2 linked regions of the Homo sapiens genome follow. The protein of the gene in region 2 interacts with the protein of the main gene of each other region in a biochemical or structural test. Each region holds a gene or a part of one and is shown on either strand. Other genes may lie near its edges.

Region 1 (7,000 bases), on a different chromosome or scaffold from region 2:
CGCCAGGATATAGATGTTATGGCCCACTTCACGTGGGCTCACCTCCGAGTTCTCACGCTCTTCCTCCTGCAGGTAGGCCTTCTTGATGACGTCCACCTGGAGGGGCAGTGCCTGTTCCAATGCTCTCTTCCTAGGGCGGTAGGGCCAGCCGGGCCCTCATCCCCATCCCAACACACTCCACCTGGTTCCGCCCGCCTGCCCACCTGCCCAGCCTCACCAGCTCCTGGGGCCGCAGGCTGATGAGGATTCGCTCAGCATTTTCACTGTCATGCCGGCTCTCCATCAGAGCCAGGAGCAGCTTGGAGGCATTGTCCTGGGTGGAGGGGCAGAGGGAGGCAGGCCACAGTCTCAGGACACCATGCCCCTGACAACTTCTCCCTCATTCCTCTCCATAACAGCTCTCCCATCCAACAAAAGGTCAGGTGCCATGACCTTCCCATCCTCCCTCCCCCCGGCTTAATGAGAAGCATCCTGCACAGCCAGCCCACCCATAGGCTTGCCTTCACCCCCGCTGTGGCAAACACTCAGCTACCCAGACAGCAGACACACACATAGCAAGTCCTCAGCTAAACCAGAATATATTTGCATCCAGAGTGAGTGTATGTTCCAGCATGCTTAAACATGCGTATATTACACACACACCCTGCACACACCACACACTTGTGCATCCAGATGATGCCCCATCACACAATGCTAACACCCACATTACACACCACTATGTACACTTGACACACAAGTCACACATACATGCATGCACATCACATGCACACCCAGCACTCACACACCTGCCACTGGGCCCCACCTTGAGCTGCAGCACCAGATCCATGCGGTACTTGCACAGGGGGCTGATGTCATTGAGGATCAGTGCGGTGATGATGTCTATGCCATTGGACTCGTGAGTCACAATGCAAGTCTGGCAGGAGGCAGTGGGGGACACAGGGCCCAGGCCCTCTCAGAATAGTGGCAGCTCCAGAGACCTCAGCCTCTCTCCCTGCCCCAGCTGGCTCCATCTACCCACATGTCCACACTGCCACCCTGGCTGCCACTTATGCCACCAGGACAGCTCACCTGGTTCTCATGGCAGGGGCCCTGGCAGTACTCAGTGAGGGTCTCCAAGGTCTGGATGACGAGGCCCACGTTGTCCTCATTGATGTAGAGCCCCAGCAGCCCCAGGCCGCCCGTGGTGCTGCCGCACATGATGTCCAGGAACTGCAGCGTCTCGCATACCAAGTTGTAGTTGGTTTTGTTGTTCTGACAGCGCAGGAAGTTCTGCGGGGCACAGAAGGGTTGGGCACAGCACAGCTACAGCACGGAGAGGGAGGCTGGCCTGGGAAGCACGATCTTGTGTGCTGCAGGGGTAGGGGAACCACCAGCCACAAAGCAGCAGTGCCCAGGGCAGGGCACACCTGCCATAGAGGGACACCAGCCACACTGCCTAGTCTGCATGCCGGCTGGCCAGCGGGGGAAGGGGCAGGTGTGTGGCGAGGCACTCACCTGCAGGTCCCGGTTGTGGTTCTCACACAGCAGCTGCAGAAAGCGCAGGATGGGCTGCATGATGAGCACGGATGTGCCCATCTCACTGCTCTGCACACGTTCGCTCACCTCGTGCCCCCGGCGCAGGCTGGGGCCCAGCGAGTAGCGGGATGAGGAGCCAGGTATCGAGAAGGAGGCCACGCGGCCTGTGGGCGAGACCTGGTGAGGCTGGAGCTGCCCACCCCCTTGGCCACCCCCCTGCACATCTTATCCTGGGATCCCCGTCACGCCGTGCCTCTGCCTCAGACCCCTGACCTTTGGTGGTGGGGTCGACTGGCTCGCGGTCCTCATGTGGCTGGCTGCCCAGGTCATTCATGTTGACTGCCACCGTGGACTTGGTCTCCTGCTGGGCCCGCTTCATGCGGTCGTGCAGCACCTTGAAGAAGCGCTCTGACTTCTTGTCACTCATCATCAGGTTGTGGAAGGATTTCTGGAGGTGGACAGTGGCCAGGGAACAACCTCAGCACTGGGCCCTGCTCCTACTCAGGGCGTGGGGCAGGCACACCACACTGCTGGGGCCGCTGGGGCTGCAGGGGCCTGGCTGCAGGCCTGGGTGCTGGTGGCTAGCATCCATGGCCACCCATGGGCGGCTCCATGCCCCATATCTGCTCCTGTGTCACGTGGTCCTTTCATCACCCCCGCATACCCCTCTGCCCCAGCCAGGCCTGAGCCCGTCTCCTCACCACCCTGCCCCCATCATGCCCACTCTTCTCACCTCTCAGCCACTGCTCAGGCCTCTCCTCTTTCACACCCTCCTCGGCCTTCAGTGCCCAACTCAAGGCCCACCTCCTCCAAAAAGGGAGGGAGGCAAAGGAGGGCATGTCCAGGCCCCAGGCCCCCCACACCTGGATCTCTGTGTTGCCACCATCCAGCAGGTGGATGGCCAGGCCGATGCTCTCCTGGAAGATCTTCTCGTTCTTGGTGCTGGTGATGAGGTCGCATACCAACTTGGTGGCCCCCTCCTTGTCCAGCCGGCACTGGGTGGCTGCGATTGCCGACCAGTCTGGGTCCAGGCCTGGAGGCGGGACTCGGTTGAGGGAGAGCTGGTGTGACAGGAGAGTGGAAGGGAGGGCCCGGGGGCAGGGGAAGGTGATACTGACCAGTGCCTATGGGGTCGGGAAGGTCCCCCCGCGAGGTGGACTTCCGGTTCTGGAGGTAGTTTTGCAGCAGCATCTTGCGCAGCTGGTTGCCCTGGGGGAGGATGGGAGTGAGGCCCCATTGTGGGTACAGCCCACCACTGACCACTGGCCTGACGGGCTTGACCCTGAGCCCCTGGGTACTCCTGACTGGCCCACCCAGCACTTGCCCCACCAGGGCACTCACCCGGTCCCCGTACTTGGTCTTCTTGAGCAGCATCTGCTGCAGGGTCCGCAGCACCTTGATGCACAGCTTCTCCTCCGACTCCATGAGGTCCTTGGTGTGCTGGATCAGCCTGAGCCGGCCAAGGAGGCAGCTCAGGGCAGCCCCACACTGCCTCCCTCCAGCTACTTCCCCACCCCATCCCAGGCAGGAACACCCCCAGGCCCTCTGACCCAGTGAGCCTGTCTAGTCCCCACCGGGCCCTTCTCTGTCCCCTGCCGCTGCACCCCTGCTGCCCCCATGCCCCAGTGTCTCGCTCACTTGGACAGGAAGCCCCCACTCTCGCAGCGCTGGTAGGCCTCACTGCCCTCCAGGAAGAGCAGCTCAGGCCAGTGCAGGACATCCACCAGCACGGACAGCTCAGCCTGTACCAGGGGCTTCAGCCGCTCCTCCAGGGCTGTGATGATGTCCTGGGGTGGGCAGGGCAGAGTCATTGCCAGGCCCAAGAAATGACCCGGGTGTGACTGCCATTCCTCCGACCCAAACGCCAAACAGCCCCACAGATTGCCCTGCCTCTGTCTGAGGGGCCCACACCCACAGAGACACCCTGAACACAGCGTGATGTCTGTCTGCTCAGAGCCCTGGCTGGGAGCTGCCAAGCCTGGCTTCTCTCCCAGCTCTGTGTGACCTTGGGCAAACCCCTTAGCCTCTCTGAGCCTCAGTCTCCTGCCACGTGGGGAAAATAATCCACCACACCCCCTCTACAGGCCAACGAGACAGCGCACAGAAATGTGCTGCATAGACAGGAGGGCGCTGCAGGAGTGAGGGGTGGTCCCGACCCCCTCATGAGCTCCAACCCCACTAGCAGGCCTCTGGGTTCTCCAGGCTTCCTCTGGAAGGAGGTTCCCCAGTCCCTTGCTGCTGGGTCGGCCCTTAGCAGCCCCAGAGTGTAGAGAAGCCAACCAGCCCCTTCCTGGAAGTGTGGGCAGGACAGGAAGAAACACTCCCCGAGAACTTGCCCCTCCAAAGTAGGGGAGCTGCTGACTCAACCAAGCAGCTCCCGAGGCAGATGCCAGGCAGCCCCACACCCACCTGCAGCTTCTCAATGATGTTCTTGTAGTCCCACTGGTTGGCGGTGGGGGTGACGCGGGGGAAGGCCCGCGTGGTTGCCTTGTAGCTGGAGGCGTTCCGCTGGGCGGCAGCTGCACAGCTGGCTCCACTGCTGAGCATCGAGCTGATGTGGGCATCCAGGTCCATGGGCAGCAAGATGGCCCGGCCCTTGGCTGGGTGGGAAGGGAGGGAGTGCTGGAGTGCTGGTGCGGGGGCAGTTCAGCCAGCCAGAGGCCAGGCTCAGGGCTGCCACACCAGGAGACAGAGTGAACTAGACCAAGGGTCTGGGAGACAGAGACCCCCCCCACCCCGGCCTATGCTTGAGGGACTGAGAGGCTTTCTTCCCCTTGTTGGGTAAAAGGAGTTTCTGCCTCTTTGATTCCCCCCGGCTCTACCCTGACTTCCCCTTCCTCTCTCTCACCTGTCCTCTCTTCTTCCCCAACTGTCCCTAACAATCCACAGGCCTGCTCCTGCCTGAGCCCATCTGCAAATACCCATAAAAAACTAGCTGGAGAATGTCGGCGAGCATCCTTCTCTGGGGAACTGACCCAGAGGAGAAAACAGCTTCTCTCAATTGCCAGGATGAGGCAGACGCCAAGAAGAACTTACTGACAACCACCTGGGAGCAGGAGATGGGCGAGCTTAGGGATAAAGTGTTTATTAGGAGGGCAGGCGTCCCCACTGTGAGCGGCAGGAGGAGTGGTTTGGGGCTGGCCAGTGCCCCGGCACACTCACCCACCATGGCGAGGGTCCGGATGCAGGCCTCCACGGAGCCCTTGTGCTGCTGCTGTAGCCACGGACACTCGAGGAGGCGTGTGGTAGACTGCAGCAGCTGCACCACAATCGTCTGGTGTGTCTGCAAGAAGTCACAGAGCCCGCTGCTGCAGCCCAGGCCCCCACCCTGGGCAACCCCAGGTCCAGGAACCAGGGCCCAATCAGAATGGGCATGGGTGGAGAGACGGAGCCTTCACTAGCCACCATGTGCCTCTGTGCCAGTTGGAAAAAGGTACTTGTATTCCCTTCAGCAGTGCACGACCTGCCCAACTGTACACGGCAGCCCTGTAACTCACCAAGGCCGTGGGCTCATAGCCATGTTGCTGACCCTTTTAAAAAATGTTTAAAAAAATTAATGTCATAAAAAGGTGATGGATTTACATGGTTGAAAAACCAAAAGGTTATTTAAAAGATAACACTTTGAGGCTGGGCGCAGTGGCTCACACGTGTAATGTCAGCACTTTGGGAGGCCAAGGTGGGTGGATGACTTGCGGTCAGGAGTTCGAGACCAGCCTGGCCAACATGGTGAAACCCTGTCTCTACTAAAAATACAAAAATTAGCCGGGCGTGGTGGCGGGTGCCTATAATCCCAGCTACTCAGGAGGCTGAGGCTGGAGAATTGCTTGAACCTGGGAGGCAGGGGTTGCAAGTGAGCCAAGGTTGTGCTACTGCACTCTAGCCTGGGGCACCAAGTGAGACTCCGTCTCAAAAAAAAAAAACATAACACTTTGAGAAGTCTCTCCCCCATCACCCTCATTGCCCTGGAGCTGATCAAGGATGGGGAAAGCTGATATCAATTACCAGAGTTCCATCGTCCCAATGCGATCCCAGGGCCCAAACAATGTGTGTCAAAATACACCACCCTTCCTGAGAAGGCAGGACTCAGCATTTTTCCCCCCAGACTTAGAAGCACGATCCCACCCCACCCCAGCTCCTATGCCCCTAGGTAGCCCCTTTTGTGGGTTTCTTTTGTATCCTTCCAGTGTTTCTTTGATTTCGGTCATGTAGCAGGGCCCTTCCTTAAGGGAACCTGGCTCGCTTTCATTCAGGGGGGCTCTGGGCTGAGCACTGGCTCGAGTCTGGGAATCTGGGGATTGACCAAGGAGCCATGAATCTTTCGAGATTCAAATCAGGCTTCTGTACACTGGCCTGGAGCCCTTCTGCTTAGGCCTTCAGAAGGCTGCCTGCCTATTTCAGTTCTAAGATCACTATGATCAACTAGCCAGCACGAAGGATCCTGCCAGGGAGACTGTCGTGATCCCTGCTTTGGCTGTACCATCCCATGGATGGCACGTCTGCCTTATCTTTGGTGAATAAGTGCTGCCACTCCGGGATCCGCCCACCCACTGGAGTTAGGAGTTCCTGCTGGATGGTACCATTCCCACCGTCATTCTGGCCCACAGAAACTGAGATAGCGAATGCTTGTTGTTTTAACTGCTAGGTTTGGGGATAATTTGTTAACACGGTATAGATAACTAATATACTTAGGCCGGGCGCGGTGGTTCACACCTGTAATCCCAGCACTTTGGGAAGCCGAGGTGGGCGGATCATGAGGTCAGGAGATTGAGACCATCCTGGCTAACACGGTGAAACCCTGTCTCTACTAAAAATGCAAAAATTAGCTGGGCGTGGTGGCGGGCACCTGTAGTCCCAGCTACTCGGGAGGCTGAGGCAGGAGAATGGCGTGAACCCAGGAGGCAGAGCTTGCAGTAAGCAGAGATCGCGCCACTGCACTCCAGCCTGGGCGACAGAGTGAAACTCCATCTCAAAAAAAAAAAAAAAAAAGATAACCAATACACTTATGTATCCTTTTGTTACTTCTTTCTGTACTATAAGCAAATATAAATATGTATTCTTATTTCCCCCCTTCCCTTCACAAAAGCTAGGCAAGTCGGCCCTGGGGTGGTGGGAGAGGAGAAGCTCACCTGCAGGGAAGTGCTGTTCTCAGAGAATGGGGAGCTGAAGAAGGCGTTGATGGTGTCCAGCACAACGCTCAGCACGTACTTCTCCAAGGTGGGGTCAGCCACGCGCTTCTCACGCTTGCTGCAGACCTGAGGCAGGAGAGAGGGATGGCTGGGGGCTCCTCACATGGGGCCCCTCCACTCCCACACCTCCTGGGGGGCTTCACCCACACCCCTCACAGGGACAGACCCGGGCCATGTCCAGGGTGAAGTTCTCAAAGAGCGTCCAGATGTGGTTGCTGGTGTAGATCTCCTTCATCTCCACCTCCGTGTCCACGTAGCAGTGGTTCACGAAGTTCACATAGGCCATTTTCACCTGGGCA
Region 2 (16,583 bases):
AAAAAATGTTAGTTGCCCCAAATATATATAAATATTTTGGATTAGTCCTCCACAGAAACAGCAACTTACATTAAACTGTATGTAATTCTAGTTAACATCATTTCTCCTCTTTGTCATGGCTGAGAGCTGAATTAGGTGGAGAACAGTTATGCTGCAATCATATAGGTTGTTTGAGTATGTGTAACACTCATTTCTGTATTCTGCTCTAAACAGAGATTCTATAAGAACTGTGATTCAGTCAGTTCCAATGGCTTAAAGCCTCTTGAGCAGCATACCAAATTTTAGATGCCAAAGTTTAATTGAAACTTGGCATATGGATGAACACTTCTGCATGTATTGAAAGCCATCAGAAGATTCCTAAACAAAGAGCAATCACACACATGGTAATTTTATCCAACTGGAACCAATTATATTTGGCATTTTTTATGAAAGAGGGAGAAAAATAAGAATGGACTCAAGAAAATGTTTTCCTTTTATGACTTTTACCCTCTTTAAGATGAATTGCCTTATGAAGTTACTTCTTACAACTCAAGGAGCATAAACTGTCTAGAGAAAAAAAATTATGCAATGTCTTCCTGGAGGCAAACATTTTGTTACAGAATAAATGTGGACTTTTAAGCACATCTGGCAATCATTCCACAACCTACAATGCTGGCACCCTAAAAATGCTTCACGATAATAATATGTTACCAGTAGAGTTGATTACTTCAAGCCAGGGGAGGTTTCAACACAAAACAGGTCATTTCCATGCAGAATACAGAGCTTCAAAGTCATCAGCTATGAGACCCACCATTAATCCAAGTGGTTGGGGGAGACGATTACTCCTAATAGAAGGGGAGCCAGATTTGAAGGTGGTTTTTACACGTGCTTTTCCCCTGGAAGAGCAAGCTTCCACACTGCAATCTTTCACCAAAGTCTAGGTCTTGGCTTTATGGTTATAGATGCCATTTCAAAGGGTATACTAGATTATAGGATTCTTTCTGCGTTCTAGACCACTACATATGTATAAGAAATCATTGTGTCGCACATGTTCTCTTTTATTGATTTCACTTACCATTCAATAAATATGTCTTGTTAAGAAAATCAGCCCTTTAATTTTATTTGGAAATACCTCGTACTGCTGCTGGACTGTCATGTTCTGATGTGACTGCCCCTTTGGGGTCAGAGAGTAAAGCCACACTTCTGTAGGTCAGTGGTGGTATCTTTGCTTAAAGGAGTAGACATATCTAATGTCAATCATCTAGGAAAGAAGGAGAATTTTAAAAAGAAATAAAGTTTGGAAAATAGATATTACACCAAAGAAAAAGGTTGTGGCGGGAGGTGGGGAGGCAGTCATTCTTCAGTCTGGGCTAGGACAAAGGACTAGATTGATTGAGGACGGTCTGCAGAGGGAAAACAAGAACGCTCGCTGCCAGATAGATAATGCTTGGGGCCAGGCAAGGGTCAATCCCCAGGAGACTCCATAAATGAGCTGGAAGAGCAGTTATAGCCAGCCAGGAGTTTTTCCCTTTTTATTAATTCTCTTTGGTAAAGATATAGCCTCGCCTCAGGTGTGCAGAGGGAACTTTAACGGAAGAGCCTCAGGCTAGAGAGCTAAAAGAAGAGTAGTATGCTGGTGGCAGTAGTGATTGGTGAAAGATTCCCTGAAAGATGAGTCTTTGTGACAGGCAGCTGGAATACAAGATATAGGTATCTCTTTTGATATGGACATTCACTCTTCTGCCCAACTTAGCTGATCCAGATGCTATTTCATTAAAGTAGCTGGCATCATTTTATTCCTTATTTGAATAAATATCAAGGAGGAGGAAATCTCTTTGTTGAGGAATAGATTAAATGGTACCTTCTCTCTGCTAGGCACTGTGTTAAGATAGGGGGATGAAGGACAGACCCACTTCTTGTGGCTTACATTCTAGTCAGAGGAAAAGGACGTGTGAACAAATAAATGTAAAAATGTGTAACAGATGTTTCAATGAACATAGTTGCCAAAAACAAGGGAGAGATAACAAGGATATAATAATTTAATATGATGCATAGGCCTGAGTCCATGTTCTTCAATCTTAAACTTCTTTAAGAGACTAGTTATCCTATTGGCAAGTAATATCAGGAAAGATTCTCTAGCCTACAGTCTGAATTTTTCATTCCCTTATTATCAATGTGTTCAATACTAACTTTTTTTGCCTGGAGAAAAGAAAACAATATGTGGGGGATTTTACTTGTGGTCTCTAACATTACATTACCTTTCTTAAACTGGGAATTCAAACTCTGGATCTTATTTTCATAAATGGGGTTCAGGTCACCCAAAACCCTCTTGAAGTCAATAAAAATTTTAAAGGATCTGTGACCCATTTTTTAAAAGTCATTTTTTGTTTTTTTCATGTGAGAGGATATAATTAAGAATCACTTTGAGTTTCCTCTAAGACTGTGATGCAATAAGTCACCTTTTAAAAATATTTAGTACATATCCATCGGAGACCTTATCAGCAATGGAGCACTGACTCCATTAATAACAAGAGAGTAAACCTTTTATGTAATGGAAAAGCCATAGTTCTTACAAGCTATACATTCTTTAACCAAGGTAATATCAAAATATATTATGAGTGCATTTCCACTGTAAATACTTTGAATTTTAAAACTCTCTCATTCAAATCTCTGTTTTCTTTAATTTTTAGTATTTCCTCTTGTCTTTGGTGTTCTGCAATTTAAATGATATGTTTAAATGGGGTTTTTTTTCTGTTTTACAATAATATTGGTATACTTCATAAACATGAAAATTCATTATTTCTGGAAAATCCTTACCCATTATCTATTCAAGTCTTGCCTCTCCCACTTCTATATGTTTTCTTTTCCTGGAACTCTTACCTTCTAGCTCCATTACTCTTAACGATGTTCATACAAAATATTTTTTATGTCTCTGCATTTTGGGTATTATCATCAATTATGTTCTAATCTGCATTTAGCCCTTCCATTAATTTTTTTTAAGAATTGTATTTTTTACTTATAGATGTTCTATTTGTCCTTTTCTTTAAAAATGTCATTTTTTTCTTAAGGTTTGATTTATTCTTTTATATTGTCAACATTTATATGTACTTTTAAAGATTCTTTTTCATGTGGTTGTATTATCTCAACTTTTTAAAAAATCCACTAACTACTGCATGTCTTATATCTACTCACTCATGGTCGATTGAGTCCATGGTCCACTGACTCTCACTCTTGGTCGATTGTTTCCTTGTGTGTTTTGTTATTCATTATAGCAAGCATATCTTTAGCAGGACTTGCTTTCTTCTTGAAAAGCCTAGGCAATCTAGATGCTTGATACTAGTCTTTCATAATGATTTTGTGTTTTACTCTTATAGGAACCTCAGGAGTATTTTCCATGTTGACTATTTCTAGGCTAGTTAGGTAGGGTATAAAAACAAAAACCCCAAAAACGATATTCTCAAGGGGAGTGTTCTTTTCTTCTTACTGTTAAAGTTTCCTGTTCTCACTGTATGCTGGTGGGCATATATTTCTAGCCTACATTTTTATTTAATGGCTTTATGCAGGGCACAGGGGTATCTCAGTTCCAGCTCTCTGCCTCATCTGGCACCAAGAGTTTACCTTCTTTCTGTCTCATATGGACATCAGATTCCAGGCTTCTTCGTCACTGGGACGCATAACTCACAGGGCAACCACATCATCACTTCACAATCTATACTCGCTTTTAATGTCTTTGTTCTTAGCACATGGTAGATTACCCTTTTATTTTTCACAAAATTGGGAGATGTTTTAAAATCATTTAAAATCTTTTATCCAGTACTGCCAGGTGTCTGTAACCATAAATTTTTCAGATTGTCTCAGTCAGCTGAATTGCCAGTGCTTTAGTTTACAGTTTACTGTTTCATTATTCATAATCAATCAATTACTCCTTCCCAAGCAGAAAGTTTAGTTGGACTGTGTTTTCAGATCCTGAGATTTTAGAAATGCTTAACTTTTTTAAATGTCTGGGATTCTTCCCCAAGTTCAGCAGTGATGAACTGTAAACATACCTTTAAAGTTCTAAATAAAGGAAATCTGAAATGCCTCCTGGGACCTTGGCAGGACATGGGCCTTTCTTGCTAATCACCATTACAAATTGATCACAATAGAGAATATTAATTGATTTGCTATTGAAAGTTGAATAAAGAGAAAATCTGAGCCATTTTCTTCTGAACACCATTTCAATTTATTACTATTTTAACTATTAAGGCCTTATTTAACTATTAAGGCCTTATTGCACATAATTGCTCACAAATAAGATAATTTACCATAATTTTCAGTTTTACTACTGAAAACTGAAGCCCCATAAATATAAATAAAAACTGAAGCCCCATTACTACTGAAGCCCCATTACTACTGAAGCCCCATAAATATATGTAAAAAATTTTTCTAAATAAGAAAACTATGAAACAGAAATTTTTGGCAAGAGTCATAGAATTTATTCCACAGAAATGACAACTTACAAAGACTTGGGATCTTATAAGGGAAAATCTCAATGATTTGAGAAATGGCAATATTCATATCTAAAATGTACTAGTGATTGCCACTTTCAGAAATGATACACCTCCCACTATGAAATTGTATAAATCACAAGTCAAAAGCATATGGAAGAGTTGATTTCTACTCTACCAGAGGGAGTAATTTTCTTTAGCTCTTTCTCATACATCATAGGTGTGAAGTACTTTTGTTTCTTGGTTAAAATTTTTCTGTTAGTTGATTATTCAACTAGAAAAACTTAAAATCTTGTCAGAGAAAACAGTGGATGAAATGTAACTATAGAACCTTTTGGAAATAATAGATTCATATAAAACCAAACCCAAATTCTAGAGCATGGCTCACTCTTACATGTATTATAGTACCTCTGACATCACGCAGAGGGTGGATGTTATGAATTGAAGCACATTAAAATATTTCTGTTCATCACTCTGCTGCTCAGTTCTATTTATTAAGAATAGTCCAGGATTCTTGAACTAAGGGAATATTCACTAAATACTGCATGTTGAGGACAGCCTGGGTAACATAGTGAGAACTTGTAGCTAAAAAATGTAATAACAATAATTAGACAAATTAGGCAGTAAGCCACATTTGAAGAAAGCACTGGGAAGAGTTTTCAGGACAACTTGGAATTATTACTTTATTTAGTCTCTCTCACTACTGATATATAACCACAAGGTTTTTAATCAAATCATTTTTTGACAGACACAGCGACAAGTGATTATATGGATTACAGAATGAAAAAAGGTTTTGTTCATGGAACAGTCTAATTTTTAAAAAGCCGTATAAATTTTTAGTCACCTAGTTTAGCCAGGAGGTAATGTTGCCAAACCTATAACCCTCAGACATCGGAGATCTCAAGTTTAACCAATAAAAATTCCATCTATGTCTTAAACTTACACCTTCAAAGTACATTTTAAAATAGCAGCATTTCAGAATATCCAAGATTTATTTATTTTTCTTTCTATTCTTGTTTTTTCTTGTCATATATCACCTTGCTATTCAGAGGGTGGTCCACGGACTAGCAACCTTGTCATCATCTGAGGGATGTCAGAAATGGAGAATCTTGGGCTGTACCTAAGACCTGCCTTCTCAAAATCTGCATTCTAACAAGATTTCCACATGATTTGCATGCTAGCCATTAAAGTTGGAAAAGTCTGTACTATGAGACATAAAAATATCTTCTAATTTAACACATCAAGTGTAAGATTTCTTTGAGGGATGATGAAATTGTCCTGGAATTAGATATTAGTGGTGGCTGTACAACTTTATGGATATATTAAAAATAGTGCATTGTACAAGTTAAATGGGGGAATTACGTGGTATGGGAATTATGTCTTGAACTTTTAAAAAGAAAAACATATACATAATTGTAAATGCTCTTAACTTGCACAGCACACAGATGAATGAAACCAGTTCTAACTATTCTCCTTTATCTTTGAGAAAAGTTAGATGCTCCCTTTACTGCGGCTCACCTCTTACTTCGAAAGGGCACCGCAGCAGGGCTTGAGGCTGGGCAGCCCTGACACAGCACCCATCTATCAGGAGGGTCTGCCAGGCGCCTATGGGGTGGAATCCTCCCTCCAACTAAAGCTGTTTATAGAGCTGAGAACCTCGGGAAACCGCTTGCGGGTGGATGTGACAAGTCAGGAAACTTGACTACCCAATCACCCAAAGGGGCAATGGGACAGAAATGCTATCTGCCCGCTGCACATGTGGTCACAGCGGTGTCGGGGAAGCGGAGTCTTTTCTTCTGGAGTCCACTCTGCTTACTCCCTACCTCCCCTCCCGCCACCCACCCAGCTAAAAAAAAAAATACCCTAGATTCATAAACAAAAGCTTGCAGTTACCCACAGCCCAATACAAACGACCCGACGCCCTCACTTCTATAGCCCGTGAGTCTCCCAGCCCCTAACAGGCTCGTCTCCCCAGACGCCCCGGGTGAAAAGGTTCGCGCCGCCGGTGGAGAGTCCTATTGGTTCTATTTCTGTCTTCACTCCAAGGCCCCAGGACCGGGGAGAGGTCCTGGTCTAACTTTGGCTGTCCCACGGTCCAAGGACCTCAGCGCTCAGCCCGAAACGCTAAGCCAAGCGTGGAGACCGCCGGGCGCACCCAGCACCCAGGCAGCTCCAACCCTTGGAGTTCTAGTCATCTCTCCCCCACATAGGCTAAGAGTCACCCGGGCGCACATCTGAATCAGCCCCCTGTTCAGATCCCGCCTGTTACGTAGCGATCCTGTCTCTTGTAGAGCGCAGGATGAAGGGGTCTGGAGAAATCGACCACCCATCTAATCACCTGCAATGGTGGTGTTACTATGCGGTCTCACTCTCGTGGGCAAACATATCCATGCGTACCTACGAGGAGCAAACCTAGACAACCCCGCCTCCCCCACTCCCCGCGCGCCCCTCCACTCACTCAGGTCCCAGCCCTGGCTCTCGCGGACCTCCCAGCACCGTCCTAGGAGGTACACACGCGGGTTCAGGACGCGCGCGGACGGACTCGGCCACTCCTGCGAGCGCACAACCTCCCTCCGCGCAGCCCGCGCCCGATCCGCCCCGCGTCGCCGGCACTCACAAGCAGGGGTAGTAGCCGTAGCAAGGCAGCGGGGCTTGCGGGCAGCCGTCTTCTCCCAGCTCCGAGTCCATGAGCAGATAGTCCTGGCTCTCGTTGCGCCGCGCAGCGGCTCCGGCAGCGCCCCGGGGAGAACTGCCCCTCCGGGGCCCGAACGCCGGGCTCTGGCTCATGGCGGGAACGCCCGACTGGCCTGGGCCCCGCTCCCGGGGGAGCCGAGTGGGCAGTTCCAGCGGGGACCCGGTGCGGAGGGTTCGCGTCAGCGGCCGAACTGGACCTGGGCAGACCGGTGCCCAGGGGACGACGGTGAAGCAGGGGGTGCAGACGCCCGCCGCAAGTGGCTCGCCCACTGGCCCGGGGAAAAGTCACCACTTAAGGGGGTGCAAAGAGGATCTTGACCTGAGCAGGTCAGGCCGAGGAGACCCCGCGAGGATGCGTCTGGGGCGCCCGGGCAGAGAGGGCACAGGCGGGGCCGCTGGTGGTAGCGAAGCGTAAGAGCGGAGAGCAAGGGAGACGGAGCTGAAGAGTTACTATGTCAACAGAGACTCTCCAGCCCTCAGCTCCCGCCTTCATCCCCCGCACTCTCCGTCAAGATCCCCACCTTTAAAGGGATCCGAGCGACGTTCTAGAAAGCAGCCAAAGCCTGTCCTGTAGCCACAACTTTCAGGAGGCGGTATGAGCCTGAACTAGGAGGAGCCAGGCACGCACTCTTTTTTTCCCCTCCACTATTTAGTTGGCTCATTTAGTAAGGATACCAACTGCGGACTTCGTAGGAAGCTTCCTTTAAGAACCACTCTCAAAGAGCCAAGGAAACCTGTTCCTTAAAAGGGACACGAGCCTCTTCTTTCTCCAGACTGCCTTCATTTTCTTTGGTCATTTTCTCTCTTACCCTCAACTCATAAAGTTATTATGACTCTGCTTTAAAAATGAACAACGTTCTATGTTCCAAACGCCAGATGTTCCCAGTTCCTGAGAAAACCAACAAAAATAGGCAAGCATTTTCCAATGATACCGATAAAGAGGCCAACAACCTGCTTACTTCAGAGAAAAAATTTTCCTTCCGTCACTGCGAATGCAAGAATGATTTCTCTGCCAGATGTTTCCCACGTTTCCAAGCTGTTTTATTTTTAAGACTTAGTTTTAAATTCTGATTAATATGCATACGTGTGAGAAGTAAAAACTTGTCAACAAGGATGAATCAGTATTTGTAGACCTTTAAGCAGTAGTAGCCAATTAAGAATCCATTCATTAAGTCAACAAATATTTAATGAATGCCAACTGCGTTTCAAATCATTTCAGAATTCGGAGGCAAAGAAGCAGATGAGGCACCTGTCTGCCCTCATAGAGCTTTCGTGGCAGAAAGGGGGACCAATTAAATAAGCAAATGAAAAAATATCAAGGACAAATGCTACAATGAAAATAAAACAGGTTGATGTGATGGCAGCTGGTGAATGACTACTTCAGATGAGATGGTTAAAAGAGGCCCCTCCAAGGAGGTGCTCGTTAAGTTGAGACATGCATGGCAAGCAGCCAGCCATGAAAAGATCAGAGGCCCATTGCAATTGGATGAAAGAAAGCCAGACTGAAATCTGTCTGCAAAGGTGCCTTTGCTTCCCATGAACAGGTGGACAACAAAATGAATGTTGGAAGTGTGGGAAAATGCAATTGATTTGATAGAAGGGAAAAGAGCTCACACATTTAGAAACTTCTGAGTTTGCCTTTAAATTTAGAACTGAAACTCAGAGAGAGCAGAAACCACTGTGTCCTGAGGATCCAGCTTCGTATTTGACACAGGTGTGTAGGGTGCATGCATGCATGCTTGGGTGGGTGAGTGGGTGGGTGGGTGGATGGATGGATGGATGGACGGATGGATGGATGGATGGATGGAAGGAATATAGAAAAAATAAGAAAATGCTCTTGGCCCTGGAAAGAACATTTTCCCTGGGGAAACAAACAACCTGCATCATTCTGAAGTCTGTTCTTTCTGATTTAACAGCCTTCCTTTTTGATCTTTCAACATGTGGAGCCATGATTTAAAATTCTTATAATTTTCTAGTTACTATACCTAGCAATAAGATATTCTTCCTAAAATTTGTTTGTGGCAACTGCTATCTGTAAGTATTCATTAGCTTTGATGCTTGAATGAATTAATCAATAAACGTTTAGTTAAACAGTGCCAAGGTAATCTCTTTGGCAACACCAAGTATGGGGAAAACATTCATGGGAAAAGTAATATTCAAAGGTTTTCTACCCAATTCAAATTCTGTGAGTTAAAGCCAAATTAATAAACATTTGTAGTGTCAGTTGAAGTGTTAACCTTTCACATAAAAAGAAAAAAAACAAAAACTGAGACAGAATTTATTTTGCTGTTGTTACACTGTTTTTCATTCACAGGTAACAACCTTCACACTGAAAAAATTACTACAGTAAACTTATTCTGACATCAATTTATCATGTGGTAAGACATGTTTTCCTCTGTTTTTTTTTTTTTTTTTGAATTATTGTGAGTACTAGAACAACAAGCCCAGTCATTTATTGAGTACCCAGAAGGAATAAGGTGGTGTACAAATGTTAGAAGATTCTGAAAGAGCTTATGACATGATGAAGTGGAATCATTAGATCAGAAGTCTCAAAGCCTGGATTTTTATTTCGGCCACTTCCCTAACTGAAGTTACATGATTTCAGAGAGGTCATTAAATCTCTCTCTGCCTCAGTTTTTTCATCAGTAAGCTGGTATACAATTACGCCTCAATCTCTAACTTCCCACATTATATAGTTATCTATGCAGTTTTATCACTTTACATTAAAAACATGGTGAAACCAATTTTTAAAAAGACAAAATACGATTAAATAATATAATTTTTGAATCAACTATGGAAGTATTGAGTAGATCTGGAGTCATGAAGAAAGCTGAGTGAACAAAGAAACAATAGTTTTTAAAGTTAAAAAATTGTTGGGTGAGCACAGGACTGATAGTTCTCACAGAGTTGGAAATTGCTATGCAATTATAGGTTATGTATGTTTATGTAGTATGTTCATGCTATTGAAATAAAAAAACACTCAGTCATTAATTCTGAGATGTGAGGATGAAGGTGAGTTATGTGTCTCTGTGGGCAGAGGAAGAGATGTTAATGAGAGAGGACCTTTGCCTCATTATATATATCTGCACTGTTTGATTATTAGTTTGATTTTACAAAAACAGATATTTTACATATATACATGTGTGTAATATATATAATGTGTATATATATTATACATATAATATATATATAACACAGTGTTTTGAAAAGCTGATAGGAGAAAAATGAGTAAAGAAAAATGGTTGTCCTCTAGAACAGTGGTCCCCAACTTTTTTGGCACCAGGGACTAGTTTCGTGGAAGACAATTTTTCCACGGACCTGTGGGGTGGGATGGATGGTTTGGAGACTATTTAAGTACATTAAATTTATTGTGCACTTTATTTCTATTATAATTACATTGTTTTATATATAATGAAATAATTATACAACTTACCATAATGTAGACTTGATAGGATCCCTGAGCTTGTTTTCCTGCAACTAGATGGTCCCATCTGGGGGTGATGGGAGACAGTGACAGATCATCAGGCATTAGATTCTTACAAGGAGCACACAACCTAGATTGCTCACATGCACAGTTCACAATAGGGTTCATGCTCCTAGGAGAATCTCATGCCTCCGCTGATCTCACAGGAGGCAAAGCTCAGGCGGTAACGCAAGTGATGGGAAAAAGCTGTAAATACTAAATACAGGTGAAGCTTCGCTGGCTTGCCCACTGCTCACCTCCTGCTGTGTGGCCCAGATCCTAATAGGCCACAGATGGATAGCAGTCCATAGCCTGGGGGTTGGGAACCGCTGCTCTAGGAAGTCTCAGGCAAGGAGCCCAAAGGGAAAGGAAAAGAAATTGCCACTAGAAGCAAAAGGTTGAGAAAACATTAAATGCTTAATAACTCAAGAAGCTCAAAAGTTACACAAAGCTGCAGTTTGTGAGTTGCTGTTGCTGATGGAAAACCACTAACATAGGAGTCTCTCTGGAAAATGCAGTTTGGGGTTGGTTGGCCAGAAGTACAGATAAAAGTTTAGTCGTGATTTCATCTGGATATTTTAAAGCATGGAAACCCTGAGCCCTGACTCCTATCACATGTAGAATCAACCGGGTGAAAACAGAAACACTTCAGAAGCTTCAGAGGGGCTGCTGATTCTCTATGAATGAAAGTGCCCTGCAAACTCCAGTTTGAGTAAAATCTGAGCAGGTGCTGCTATATCTTTGAACCTCAATTTCTTAATTTTTAAAATAAAGGGGTTATAATACTTTACATTTAGTATCTGTCTTGCAGCTAAAATGTTATTAACCATCAGAAACAAATAGAAGAATCTACAGATTGCTAATTTCATTTTTGCTCTAATTTGAGCTTGACATAGATGTTGTCCAAAATTCTAACATTATCATATGGTTATTTTGTAAGCACTTGTGATTAATATGGTTTCACTTAGAGAACAAGTTATGTTAATATCTCTTTTGATGGAATTATTGGGACATTTTTAGTAAACTGTTTACCAAGAGCATCGTGTGATATGTTTGACAGCACGATTGAAAAATAAGAACTGGGTAACAAAGGAGTGATTCATAAATAGTTAGAAGACGATTGAAAAGATTGTTGATTTATACATCAATGTCACCCAAGTTTAGTAAATGAAGACATACCAAGAATGGACTGAGCTGCTTTTGGTTTTTTGTTTTGGCTTGTTTTTGCTGGTTTTTGTTTTGTTTTGTTTTTGTTTTTGTTTTCTTTCACTGGACATGTTCAAATACAACCTGGACCTCAATTTTCCACGTATACTACAAGGAAAATTAATATACTTATGGAAAATTAAGTGAACACTAAGATCCTGTAAGAAAAAATCTAAAATTCAAAAACTAATCATCATCTCCATGGATCCAAAAAGTTAATAAAATATCTATTCTTCATTTTTTAAAAGGAAATAAGAAAAAGCTTAGAAAACTAAGAGTAACAGACACATTTTTAACATGGCAGAGAAAACTATTTTAGATAAAAACAACATGGAGAAACACCAGAGATGTTTCCATTAATTTAAGAAATCAAAGATGTTTGTCATTATCATTACTATTTTTCATAGCTAAGAACTTCAACAATAAGTAAAATAAAACATAAAAAATAAGATGAAAAAGTTTGAAATGAGGACATAAATCTATTACTTCACAGGCTATATAATAGTCTACTATAAAAAATTCAAGATTTTTAGCTAAAAATAGTTAGATTCAGAAGTAAGAAATGTGTTTGGTACAATGCCAGATAATAAAAGTAAATATTAAAAATTCAGTAGTTTTCCTTTATATCAGCAATAGCCAAAATATAATAAAAGCTATAAAATATAATATAAGCAGAAATATATTTAACAGAGAATTGTAAAACCTATGAAAAGAAAATTATAAATCTTCACTAAGACCTAATTGAAAAATAATCAGAGGTCTGTATCAAATTATATAACACATTTTATTGATAGTTTCATTATACTTGTATTAAATTTACAGATTTAGTTAGAATGTAGTAGTTTCAATACTTATGTCTTCCTATAGAAGGACAGGTTTTTCTCTACTATTTATTTTTTCACATTTCTAAAAATAAATATCTAAAAGAAAGAAAAATCCAAAAAAAGAAAAGCAATGAAAGAAACTTGGTGTAAAAAATATCGAATGATTTAAAGAAACCACAAAAATAATATAAATTGGTACACACAAACTAGAAATATGTAAAGAATTTAATGGAAAGAATAAAGGATACAAAAGATTTTATGGTATGATAAAGAGCACATCTTAAGTCAATGGGAGATGTGAAGGAATGTGGAATAAATCAAACTGGATAAGAGATTTCTATCTTGTACTTTTGCCACAAATGGTATGCGTTAATAAGTCAAATGTAATTAAAGAAGTTGTAAAACCTACTAAACAAAGATAATCAACACGTTTAAGAAGATCGCGCCACTGCACTCCAGCCTGGGCAACAGAGTGAGACTGTCTCAAAAAAAAAGAAAAGAAAAGAAAAGATTAATATCAAGTATCTTTCTTGGCCACAATGGCATGAAACTAGAAATAAATAACAGGAAGGAGACTGGAAAATTCACAAGTATTTGGAAATTTTAAAACATGCTTCTGAACAACCAATGGATCACAGAAGAAATCAAAGGGAAAATAAAAAAATATATTGAGACAAATGATATATAAACACAACTTACTAAATTATGGGAAGCAGCAAAGCAGTTCTAAGAGAAAAGTTTGTAGCAATAAACACCTACATTAAAAAAGAAGAAAACCCTCCAATAAACAACCTAACATCATTTCTCAAAAAAAAAAAAAAAAAAAAACTAGAAAAAAAAGAACAATCTAAGTCCAGAGCTAGTAGAAGGAGGAAATAACAAAGATCAAAGAAAAAATAAATAAAATAGAGACTTAGAAAGCAATATGAAAGAGCAACAAAATTAAAAGGGGATCTTTGAAAAGATAAAATTGATAAACCTTTATCTAGGCTAATAAAAAATGAAAGAAGACTCTAAAATGAGAAACGAAAAGGGAGACATTACAACTTATACAGAAATACAAAGAACCTTAGAAGACTATTACAAATAACTATACACCAACAAATTGGATAGTTTAGAAGAAATAAATTCCTAGAAACTTACCATCAGCCAAGACTAAACTATGAAGAAATAGCATATCTGAACAGACCAATCACAAGTAGGAAGATTGAATCAGTAATCAAAAATATTTTTCAAAGAAAAGCCCAGGACCTGATGTCTTCACTGGTGAATTCTACCAAACATTTAAAGAAGAATTAGTACCAATCTTTCTCAAATTACTTCAAAAAACTGAAGCAGGCGAAATACTTCTAAGCTCATTTTATGAGTCTGACATTACCCTGATTCCAAAGCCAGACAAAGGCATTACAAGAAAAGAAAGTTATAATATCCTCAATGACATTGATGCAAAAATCCTCAGCAACATGCTAGCAAACTGAATTCAACAATACATTAAAAGGATGGTACACCATGATCAAGTGGCATTTTTCCCTGGAATGTGGGATGGTTCAACATGTGCAAATCCATAAACATGATATACCACATTAACAGAATAAGGCACAAAACCCACCTGATCTCAATAGTTAAAGAAAAAGCAGTTTACAAATCTCAACATCCTTTCATGATAAAAACCCTTAACAAACTAGATATAGAAGCAATGTACATCACACAATACAGGCTATATATGACAGGCCCACAACTAATATCATATTGAGTGGTAAAAAGTTGAAATCTTTTCCTCTAAATCAGGAGCAAGACAAGGATGTCCACTCTTCCTGCTTCTATTCAATATAGTATAATGGAAATTCTAGCCGGAGCAATTAGGCAAGAGAAAGAAATAAAAAGCATACAAATTAGAAAGGAAAAAGTTAAATTGTTCCTGTTTGTAGATGACATAATCTTATAGTTAGAAAATATTAATGACTCCACCAAAAAAAACCACTTAAACCTAATAAACAATACAGTAAAGTTGCAGGATACAAAATCAACATACAATAGTCAATTGCATTTATATTAAAAAAACAAACTATCCAAAAAATGAAATCAAGAAAACAATCCCATTTACAATAGTTAAAAAAAAAACTTAGGAATAAATTTAACAAAGAAGGCAAAAGACTTTGACACTGAAAACTATAAAACACTGAAGAATGAAAGTAAAGAAGACATGGATAAATGGAAAGATACTTCATGTTCAGGGATTAGAAGAATTAATATTGTTAAAATGTTTATACTCCCCCAAAGTTATCTACAGATTCTCTCCATCAAAATTCCAGTGACATTTTCCCAGAAATAAAAAGAATTCTAAAGCATTCATGGAACCACAAAAATCCCTGTGATGGTTAACTTTGGACTTGACTTGATTAAGGCATACTCAGATAGCAGGTAAGGCGTTATTCTTAATGTTTCAGAAGGAACTGATCCCTCTTTTGCTAAAAGGGAAGTCCAGGTAGTTGTGGTTTTGATTAGATGATCGGGCTATCCTAGGTGTGTCTGTGTGGATGTTTCCAGAAGAGATTAGCATGTGAGTTGGTGGTCTGAGTGGGGAAGATCCACCCTCGATGTGAGTGGGCATCATCCAATCAGTTTTGGGCCCTAATGGAGCAAAGGCAGAGTAAGGGAGAATTCTCACTTTCCCTCCCTGAGACAGGACACCTTCTTCTCCTGCCCTTGGATGTCAGAACTCCAGGTGGTCTGGTCTTTGAACTCCAGGACTCATACCAGTAGCCCTCAGGCTCTCCAGCAATCAGGATTGAAAATCACACCACAGCTTTGTTGGTTCTGCAGTTTGGACTTGGACTGAGACACATTACTCTCTTTCCCGGTTCTCCCACTTGATAAAGATGGTCTGCAAGATTTCTCAACTTCCAAAATAAAGTGAGCCAATTCTAATAAATCCTTTTTCATATATCTCTCTATAAATTATATTGGCTCTGTCTCTTTGGAGACAGAAACAACCCCAAATAGTCAAAGCAATCCTGAAGAAAAAGAACAAAACTAGAGGTATCACACTACCTGATCTCAAAATCTGCTATAAAACTATAGTAATCAACACAGCATGGTACTGACATAAAAACAGACACCCAGACCAATGGAACAGAATAGACAGCACAGAAATAATAATAATAATATATATAATATAATAAGAGTAATAATCTGTGAAGAATAAATATATATACACAAATATGTATAAATACATAAAATTCATATTCATGAATGCATGGTTAGTGAATGAAAACTTTTTTCTTTTTCTGCCATTCATTCATTATCCGTGGATTCATGGACAGATATTTGATTGAAGTGGTTATTATCCATTATCATCATAATTTATTTTGCTGCTCAAATGATTCTAGATTTGGCACTTTTGATCAGCCTCTGAAAATCCCTCCATATCAGTTTATAGAGATCCTCTTCAATCTTTTTTTAAATTGATGTATTGTTGTATAAATCCATTGTGTAAATCAAGGATTTACAAATTAAGGCCCACAGGCAAAATCTGACCCACCATTTGTTTTTGTAAATGATCTTTGATTGATGTGCCATGCACAATTGTTTGTATGTTTTTTTATGTCTGCTTTTGGATTACGACCACAGAGTTCAGTAATTGAAATAGAGACTGTGTGGGCCAAAAATTCCTCCCTCGTTTTTAAGAAAATTTTGCTGTCCCTTAGTGAAAATTAATCATAATTTGTTCAAACAATAACCAATGTGTGGATATTGAAACTGTACTCAATATTTTTAACTATTAATAATGCCATAATGAATAGTCTTGTGCATGTGTGTTTTCATATTATTGGAGATTGATATGGTTTTGCTGTGTCCCCACCCACATCTTATCTTGAATTGTAGCTCCCATAATTCCCACATGTCACGGGAGGGACCTGGTTGGAGGTA

Evidence for each region.
Region 1: the proteins of TRPC6 (region 2) and ITPR3 form a complex in vitro, tested with the Homo sapiens proteins (one study listed by BioGRID).

What each region holds. Positions count from the first base shown.
Region 1 is NC_000006.12:33,680,322-33,687,321, reverse strand, and holds part of ITPR3 (inositol 1,4,5-trisphosphate-gated calcium channel ITPR3), read right to left. Parts: intron 6,994-7,000; coding exon 6,868-6,993; intron 6,768-6,867; coding exon 6,642-6,767; intron 4,799-6,641; coding exon 4,678-4,798; intron 4,116-4,677; coding exon 3,925-4,115; intron 3,303-3,924; coding exon 3,154-3,302; intron 2,966-3,153; coding exon 2,857-2,965; intron 2,725-2,856; coding exon 2,634-2,724; intron 2,549-2,633; coding exon 2,379-2,548; intron 1,964-2,378; coding exon 1,789-1,963; intron 1,680-1,788; coding exon 1,495-1,679; intron 1,270-1,494; coding exon 1,069-1,269; intron 914-1,068; coding exon 803-913; intron 314-802; coding exon 218-313; intron 97-217; coding exon 1-96.
Region 2 is NC_000011.10:101,576,251-101,592,833, forward strand, and holds the start of TRPC6 (short transient receptor potential channel 6), read right to left. Parts: upstream 7,758-16,583; 5' UTR 7,254-7,757; coding exon 7,084-7,253; intron 7,018-7,083; exon of another isoform or gene 6,925-7,017; intron 1-6,924. UniProt on the Homo sapiens protein: Forms a receptor-activated non-selective calcium permeant cation channel. Probably is operated by a phosphatidylinositol second messenger system activated by receptor tyrosine kinases or G-protein coupled receptors.